Linked DNA regions of Homo sapiens. The protein of the gene in region 1 interacts with the protein of each later gene in a pairwise test. Each region holds a gene or a part of one and is shown on either strand. Other genes may lie near its edges. The genes, in order: IGF2BP2, HSCB and RBM3.

Region 1 (3,739 bases):
TCAGAATTGTTAGAGGATATTATTTGAGCTAAATGTTTCCTCTCTCTGTTTCAGTGGTGTATGTGCAAGTGTGTGTATATGTTTTTTGTTGGGGACAGTTTCAGGTAGATGGTATGAAGAGGCAGCAGGAGATCTTTAATTGAACAACAGTTGCTCTGGAATTCAGTCTTGACAAGGCTCAAGAAAGTTGCTTGGTGATTGAAACCTGTGGCAAAGGGAATCCAGTGCAGTGATATTTGCCTTGAGTGATGAATAACTCTTGTAGGTGGTTAACCTTGTGAAAGCCAAGTCACAGGTACCTGGAGTAGGTTTTACAGTGAGCATGCTACTGAAAGGACCATCAGTGCAGCATCTTCCCTCCTTCCTTTTCACTTGGCTATCCCCTGTCACAAAAGATTCTGTGAAGGCTTTGATGATGTTATAAGCCATTTTTTTAAGTGTCAGAAAATTCAAGATTTGAATATGCACTTCCATTTAGAAATTCTATACTTTGAAAAGCAATATGGTATTTTGCATAACACAAGTGCTCTCAGTGAGTAAACTTCATTAGAAGAAGCGTTATATTGAAATAGTTTCTTTGGAGACTTAAAAATGTTGAATTATACATTTCAAAATATATTTTTAAAAATTATATTTAAACATCACAAAAGTCTTCAGTGTTCTTTTCAGTGTTAGAAATTAGTGGGCTTGGCTAAGCTAATTTTTAAAGAGTTCATGCTCTAAAACTTTCAGTCAAAAGCATTATCTCTCAAAAGCTATGATTAACTTCTTAAATTGAGAGATGGGAGTGTTCTGTTTAACAAAACATGCCCCCAGAATTTATTAGTAAAGTTTTATCCTTCTTATATTCAAATTCATGTTCAAATTATTTTGGGTATTCATTCAAAAGCAGTATCATTGAACAAATAATAGCAAATAAACAGCAAACACCTACCAATGAAGATAAGTCTTTCCTCCCATTTATCATCACCATTAAAACATTTTAAATCTTTTACTTTATAATTTGACTTCATGCTTACAAACTTATAATTTTCATTTGGTGGCATGGACTCTATGGGTTCTATTTTAGGCAGCAAAATTGCAGAGTGCTCAGAGCATTATTTTTAAGGTTTTACTTTTCCTGTTTTGATCATGGACTTTAGTCTGGTCTCTCCATAAAATAGTGAAGAAAAATTATTTTCTTTTGTAGAAAACTTCAGATTCTGTTGCTTGGCTGCCAAAGGGAAGAAGGAATACAATAATTATTTCTTTAATTTGGTTTAGAGTTTGATGGTATATTGAGATAGAATAAGTACAACAGTGAAAATGGATGCTTTTGCATTAATAGGAGGCATTCAAGCCCAAAAGCTAGCCCTGTTCCATCATTTGATAGTTATGTCTCCTCCCCAAGCCTCTGCTTTTCACTAAATAATATCTGTATTTTTGAGATACATTTTGTTTATTCCTCATTATTTATCTGTTCTACACTTTATTTCTTAAAATGTGAACATTCAGATAGGATTTTCCCATTCTGTTTAGTGTCAAGGACATTTCATAAATAAAGCAGATATTTTAATAAGTCTGATAAATGAAAATTAAGAGTTCTGATGTATGTTTTGAGCTTTCTCTTATTTACCCATATCAAAATAAATGTTGCATCTAATGACCAGAAAAATTTGTATGGGAACATTGCAATAAGAATTATATTTTCAGTTTTTCTTATTGTCATGTAATTAATGTGTCTCAAAGTAAGGATTTGCTGTAGTGGGAAGCTTGAATTTTTAAATTTTTGTTTTAAATGTGATCAGAAAGGTTGATGATTTCATGTATTGATATTTAAACAATGGTAGTAGTATTATCTCAGGGAGGAGTATTTTTTGCCTGCATCTTAATATTCATACAGTACTGATGCTGTTCCAGCCTCTTTGACACATTATTTCATTTATTCCAAATAATAATTTTGTGAAAAATAGGACAATTGATACTATCTCTTTTTTTGGATGAGGAAACTCAGCCCCAGACAAGCTTAATAATTTGTTTAGGCCACATGACTGTTAATTAAGTAGTAGGGCTAGAACCCAGGTCTTTTGAGGTCCCTGAGTCTCGCTCCACTGTACTTCCTCCCCATTTAACGTTTTACATTAAAGAAGTCAGCTGAATGTGTTGTAAAGTTCGAAGAATGCTGTTCGAGGGTGGTAGAAATATATGAAAATACATTTGTGAATTGAACCTTTGCAATGATGCTACATCAGTCTGAGTGATCTGTACTTTGCTATAGTTTTTAGAAAAAAATAGTTAGAAATAGAGGTAATTTTAAAGGTAGCATTGCACGTCTTCCCATCTCTGTGCTTGCCCACAGACAGAAGTGGGGAATATACCTAAGCAGGTTGTGGGGTTGTTGTTGTTGTTATGTTGCTTTTTTCGGCAGTTGTGTTCCTGACATAACAAGACAAACATTTCTTTCAACATCTGAGCCACACAGATTAGACAGCGAACTGTCACCCGGGTCAAGACTATGTGCCATGTGGTGAATGAAAGTCTAGCTCAAGGAATCTCCTGGGTGGGTTCTTCACGGGGTTCAGACAGCCTGTTGCAAAGGTCAGGGCTGTGTTGTGGTTTACGTGTTTCCCTGGTAGGAACTGCCAGGTCTTTCCCAGAGGTGGTATCTTTCTCTACGTCACTTTCTGTACTGAATAAGGCCTTGGGCCTCTCATACTGTCTTGACTATGGGGTGAGTGTTAATAGGGATAGTATCCATAAAGTTCTGAGTTCTTTATTAATTTTATAATCGCACAAAAAAATATGCTAAATAATGAAGCATGTGAAGTACAGTTCATTTCCCCTCAACTGTAAACTTTTCCTGCATTTATCTTCGTTTCCTTTAACTCTTATGGACTGTTTATGGTGCTGGTGGGAGGGAGAGAGGAATTATCAAGGAAAAAAAAATAGGTGAAAGAAGGTTATTTCCAACTCCCCATGCATTTCTTTGAGTTAGTACAGTCCAGAGTGGGATATGGCATTTTCCGTGGAATTCTGACTCAGGAGATGGGGGAGAGGAAGAGAGTTAACTAATACTGGGTGGCTGCTACGTGCTAGGCACTGGACTAGGCTTCCTGTTTTATCCTCCCCACAGCCTGAAGAGATCCGTCTTTATCCTTCTTACACAAAGGGCTCTAAAGCTTCAGACTCTAAAATAACTCCTTGCTCCTGACCAGAACTTCAGAAGGCAGTGGCTTGTTGTCCATCTCATTTGAATACTGCAACAGAACCTTAGCAATGAAGTAGAAAGTTGTGATAATATGTATACAGGCTATAAAGTAACTTTGTATATTATTCCTAACTTAGAATAAGAGAAAATTTCCATATATAAAACCTATGCTGAGAAAGATTAGGAACTCAAGTTCAGTATATTTTTAATTTAATATAATTGAAAAGAATTAAAAGTGTTAGTCATAATTTGAAAGAACTTCCTTGAAGTAGTCCTATAGTAGAAGCATTTATAATTATATAAAGAGAAAGAGGTTTTTTTAAAAATCATTGTGGTTGACAGTTAAGTGTAAAAAACATACATGTATGCAGTGTGGGAGGAGGGCCTGTTCCATGCCTTTGACCCAGATATATATATTTTTTCAAATCCTGAAAAAAAACTTGAGGTTTTTTTGTTTAGGATACAGAATGTTGCACAAAGATTGGCATGCTTTCATTTTTATATGTATTTTTAAAAATATCTGTGTCTTAGAGAAGGAAAATAATGGAATTT
Region 2 (2,986 bases), on another chromosome or scaffold:
CAAGATCACGCCACTGCACTCCAGCCTGGGCAACAAAGCGAGACTCCCTCTCAAAACAAACAAAAAAAAAACCTGAAGGAGGAATGAAGCTATTCTCAGGCAAATAAAAATTGAAGGAATTTGGGCTGGGCGCGGTGGCTCACACTTGTAATCCCAACACTTTGGGAGGCCGAGGCGGGTGGATCAAGAGATCAAGACCATCCTGGCCAACATGGTGAAACCCCATCTCTACTAAAAATACAAAATTAGCCAGGCGCAGTGGCGCGCCTGTAATCCCAGCTACTAGGGAGGCTGAGGCAGGAGAATCGTTTGAACCTGGGAGGCGGAGGCTGCAGTAAGCCAAGATCACGCCACTGCACTCCAGCCTGGTGACAGAGCAAGACTTTGTCTCAAAAAAAAAAAAAAAAAAAATTGGGCCGGGCATGGTTAATGATGCCTGTAACCCCAGCACTTTGAGAGGCTGAGGCTGGCGGATCACAAGGTCAGGAGATTGAGAATATCCTGGCTAACACAGTGAAACCCTGTCTCTACTAAAAATACAAAAAATTAGCCAGGCCTGGTGGTGACCGTCTGTAGTCCCAGCTACTCGGGAGGCTGAGGCAGGAGAATGGCGTGAACCCGGGAGGCGGAGCTTGCAGTGAGCAGAGATCGCGCCACTGCACTCCAGCCTGTGCAACAGAGCGAGACTCCATCTCAAAAAAAAAAAAAAATTTGTTGACAGGAGACCTGCCACGTAAAAAAAATGTTAAAAGAATTGATTGGCTAGGCGTGGTGGCTCACGCCTGTAATCCCCACATTTTGAGAGGCCAAGGTGGGCGGATCACAAGGTCAGGAGTTCGAGACCAGCCTGACAAACATGGTGGAACCCCGTCTCTACTAAAAATACAAAAAGTAGCCAGGCATGGTGGCGCTCGCCTGTAATCCCAGCTACTCCGAAGGCTGAGGCAGGAGAATGGCTTGATCCCGGAAGTCGGAGGTTGCAGTGAGCCGAGATCACGCCAATGCACTCCAACCTGGGTGACAGAATGAGATGCCATCTCAAAAAAAAAAATTATTTAGAGTGGAGGAAATTTATATAGGTCGGAAACTTGGGTCTACATAACGAAAGGAAGACCATTGGAGAAAGGAATAAGTAAATGCAAAATTAAAACTTATTTTTTAAATTGATCTAACAAAGTGTTTTCAAAATAATAAAAGCAACATTAGACCGGGCGTGGTGGCTCACATCTGTAATCCCAGCACTTTGGGAGGCTGAGGCGGGCGGATCATTTGAGGTCCGGAGTTCGAGACCTGCCTGGCCAACATGGTAAAACCCCATCTCTACTAAAAATACAAAAAAATTAGGGTGGCATGGTGGCGGGCGCCTGTAATCCCAGCTACTCAGGAGGCTGAGGCAGGAAGATCGCTTGAACCCGGGAGACAGATGTTGCAGTGAGCTGAGATCGCACCATTGCACTCCAGCCTGGGCGACAAGAGAAAAACTCCAACTCAAAAAAAAAGGATAGAAATTCTGACACCAGCCGGGCACGGTGGCTCACGCCTGTAATCCCAGCACTTTGGGAGGCTGAGGCGGGTGGGTCATGAGGTGAGGAGATCGAGACCATCCTAGCTAACACGGTGAAACCCCGTCTCTACTAAATATACAAAAAATCAGCCAGGCGTGGTGGCGGGCACCTGTAGTCCCAGCTACTCAGGAGGCTGAGGCAGGAGAATGGCGTGAACCTGGGAGGTGGAGCTTGCAGTGAGTGGAGACCACCTCACTGCACTTCGGCCTGGGTGACACAGGGAGACTCCATCTCAAAAAAAAAAGAAATTCTGACACAGGACCGGGCGCGGTGGCTCACGCCTGTAATCCTAGCAGTTTGGGAGGCCAAGGTCGGCAGATCACAAGGTCAAGAGTTCTAGACCAGCCTGGCCAACATGGTGAAACCCCGTCTCTGAAAAATTAGCTGGGTGTGGTGGCAGATGCCTGTAATCCCAGCTACTCAGGAGGCTGAGGCAGGAGTATCGCTTGAAATTGGAAGGTGGAGTTTGCAGTGAGCCGAGATCGTGTCACTGCACTCCTGACGGCAACAAGAGCGAAACTCCATCTCAAAAACAAACAAACAAAAAAAAATCTGACACAGGCTCCAACATGGATGAACCTTGAGGACATTGTACTATGTGAAATGTCAGTCACAAAAGGACAAATACTATATAATTCCACTTATATGAGGTACCTGTGGTAGTCAGATTCATAGAGAAAGTGGAATGGTGGTTGTGGGGGGATAGAGTCAGGAAGAGGAAAATAGAGAGTTATTTCATAAGTAGAGAGCTTCAGTTTTGCAAGATGAAAAGAGTTCTGTGGAAGGTCAGGCACGGTGGCTCCCACCTGTAATCCCAGCACTTTGAGAGACTGAGGCAGACAGATCATCTCAGGGCAGGAATTTGAGACCAGCCTGACCAACATGGTGAAACCCCGTCTTTACTGCAAATACAAAAATTAGCCAGGTGTGATGATGCATGCCTGTAATCCCAGCTACTTGGGAGTCTGAGGCACAAGAATCACTTGAACCCGGGAGGTGGAGGCTGCAGTGAGCCAAGATCATGCCACTGCATTCCAGCCTGGGCAACAAAGCAAGACTCTATCTCAAAAAAAAAAAGTTATGTGGATGGATGGTGGTGATGCTTGCCCAACAATGTGAATGTACTTAATGTCATTGAACTGTACACTTAGAAATGGCTAACATGATGAATTTTATGTCATGTGTTACCAACTTAATTTTTTTTTTTTTTGAGACTGAGTTTTGCTCTTTCGCCCAGGCTAGAGTACTGTGGCATGATCTCAGCTCACTGCAACCTCAGCCTTTCGGTTTCAAGTGATTCTCCTGCCTCAGCCTCCCAAGTAGCTGTGATTACAGGAGCCTGCCACCACACCCGGCTAATTTTTGTATTTTTAGTAGAGATGGGATTTCACCATGTTGGCCAGGCTGGTCTTGAACTCCTG
Region 3 (2,815 bases), on another chromosome or scaffold:
CTAAGAGCTCAGATTCCAGGATTTATGTAGGGGCTCTTCTACTTCCCAGGTATTTGACCTCAGGTGAGTCATTTAATTTCAGCCTTATGCCATTTTACATTTTCTGTGGAGGGTTAGGTTAATTGGCATATAAAGCCACTGAGAAGAGTTGGCAAAGCTCTCAGTCACGGGGATTTGATCTTTTTTGGTGTGTGTGTGTCTTGGGTGGTAAAGTGGTAATTTTGTAATTCTAGCTGGTCTTAGTTCCTCAGTTCTGCTCCCTTTAGTCATGGTTCTTTCTAGTGGCTGTATTGAGGCCCCATGGGTGTTATCCCTCCATTGGTTCTAGTTTGGAACAGAAAAATCTGTTGTATTCATGGCTTTCACCTGGCTAATACTGAGCTAAGTTACCACCAGGTTGCAAACTCCAGGACATTATTGTCCTGAGCTGCCTATTCCCTTGCTGGTGCGTTGTGGAACCCTGTATTATTAGTTCCAGTCCTGGAGGCCTGCCTCCTGAGTTTCCCAGCTAGTTGGGACAGGCCCCAATATCCCTTCTTCCTGTAACCCAAACAGTCATGAATTTGCTTTGGCAGGTGGATGGAGACTTGGGAACTTCCACCTCACCCACTAAGCCAGGCCCAGGCTATGGGGCATTGTGGCTAACCCCACCAGGTGGATACTTGGTCTGAGGACGCATCTTATTCTGGGCCTTTAGGGAGCTAAGGCAGTGAGAATTGGCAGGAGGACTGCTGTGAATGCCTTGTAGGTCGGGGGATTGGAGGGGGTCCTCTGCTCCCTGTCTCTCAGGATGGCAATGTACCTCTCACCCCCAGTGTCAGCTGAGGTAGGATCCATAATCAGTAATATTCCTGCAACAAAATGTTCCTAAGTGGAATCAATGAAGACCAAAATTTATTTGTATAACAACTCTAAACCTGCTCTGCTCTGCTGTGTTTACAATGTGCTTTGTGATCATCCAGCCCAGGGAGTCCCAGTCTCTGGCTGTCTATCTGCTCTAAGGAAGAGAGCCCACAGTTCTCTATAGTGCCATAGTCTGTGATGAATAAAGTTCCAGATTTGAGGTCAACCCCCGACCACCCTTAAAGTGCTTGTTGGTCTCCTACTTTGGTTTGTCTTCAGCATCCAACTGATGCACATTTGTCAAGAACCCACTGAGGCTAGAAACCCCCCAAACACTCAAGGTACCTTGAGAACATGTATCCCAAGACCTGCAAAGACCAAACACATGGCCTGTAACTACTTTTCACTTTCAAGCCCTGGAACTTGTCTGTACCAAAAATCTTTCTGAACCATTCACCAAATCTCTTGTCAAGGGCCAGAATAAATTAAGAGATTGGCTTTTGGTTTTCAATTAGGCTTTCAAGTCCTAAGCCCAACCCCTCCTATCCCACCTAGGCAGAAATCACTTCAGATCCTTGCTTCCTAGTTTAATTTCTTCTCTGCCTCAGTTATAACATCCATAAAATGGAAATAATAATACCCACCTCACACAGGGGTTAGGAGTGTTTTTTTGTTGGTTTTTTTCCAGACAGGGTCTCACTCTGTCTCCCAGGCTGGAGTGCAGTGGCACAATCTCGGCTCACTGTACCCTCCGCCTCCCAGGTTCAAGCAGTTCTCATGCCTCAGCCTCCCAAGTAGCTGGGATTACAGGTGCCTGCCACCACGCCCGGCTAATTTTTGTATTAATAGAGACAGGGTTTCACCGTGTTGGGCAGGCTGGTCCTGAACTCCTGACCTCAAGTGATCCACCCGCCTCGGCCTCCCAAAGTGCTGGGATTACAGGCGTGAGCCACCACACCTGGCCTAGGAGTTAAGAGTATTAAATGTTAAGAACAGACCAAGTCCATCAAACAGCTCCACACCCTTGTTCCATGTTCTGGATTGGGGAGTTGTGGGGGTGGAGGTGTAGAACTTTTAAAAAGCTTCTTAAAATAAGTTGCTGTGAATACTTCAGGTATATAAAAAAACATTGGTTGACAATAAGCCAGTGTTCTGCCATTCTTACCTGCTTATCAAGACAAAACCTGCTCAAGTCCCTGCCCAGCTGCATTCCAAGTGTTTTCAAGTTTGGTGGTAAGACCTGACCTGAGGCTTCTTATAACCTTTACTCAGTGGGAATATGCATACAGTTCACTACAGAAATATTTGTATTTACTTAGAGGAAGTGCCCTGGATCTGGGGGCGGGGGGGGGCGGGGGGAATGGGTCTTTTCTAAATTGTTAAAAGCAGTTCATGCCATTATTCTTAATAAACATTTCTAATATGCTGTGAAAGAGTATATTCGTTTTTTTAATGCATATATCCATTTACTCATTGTTCCCATGAAAGAGCCTTGTATGCAAACCTCCAAATGCCGAAGGAGCCAAGAAACAAGGCAGACAAAAATTGTTAGTAAAGGGTTCTTTACTGGGGGGACTTAGAAGCATGACGTGGGGACGGGCGCAGTGGCTCACACCTGTCATCCCAACACTTTGGGAAGCCGAGGTGGGTGGATCACCTGATGTCAGGAGTTTGAGACCAGCCTGGCCAACATGATGAAACCCCGTCTCTACTAAATACAAAAATTAATCGAGTGTAGTGGCGCACACCAAGTAATCCCAGCTTCTTGGGAGGCTGAGGCACAAGAATGGCTTGAACCCGGGAGGTGGAGATTGCAGTGAGCCCAGATCGTGCCACTGCACTCCAGCCTGAGCGACAGAGCACAACTGTCTCAAAAATAAGCATGGCCTTGGGTGGCAGCAAGATAACCATGCTGTTGCTCTTCAACCCACGGCTTACATACCATAGGGAAAGAGTGTGCTCAAGATGAAGG

The links.
Region 2: the proteins of IGF2BP2 (region 1) and HSCB interact in a two-hybrid assay, tested with the Homo sapiens proteins (one large-scale study listed by IntAct).
Region 3: the proteins of IGF2BP2 (region 1) and RBM3 interact in binary tests that used the Homo sapiens proteins (3 or more experiments, as listed by UniProt).

What each region holds. Positions count from the first base shown.
Region 1 is NC_000003.12:185,814,919-185,818,657, reverse strand, and holds part of IGF2BP2 (insulin-like growth factor 2 mRNA-binding protein 2), read left to right. Parts: intron 1-3,739.
Region 2 is NC_000022.11:28,752,039-28,755,024, forward strand, and holds part of HSCB (iron-sulfur cluster co-chaperone protein HscB isoform 1 precursor), read left to right. Parts: intron 1-2,986.
Region 3 is NC_000023.11:48,578,887-48,581,701, forward strand, and holds the end of RBM3 (RNA-binding protein 3), read left to right. Parts: 3' UTR 1-2,276; downstream 2,277-2,815. UniProt on the Homo sapiens protein: Cold-inducible mRNA binding protein that enhances global protein synthesis at both physiological and mild hypothermic temperatures. Reduces the relative abundance of microRNAs, when overexpressed.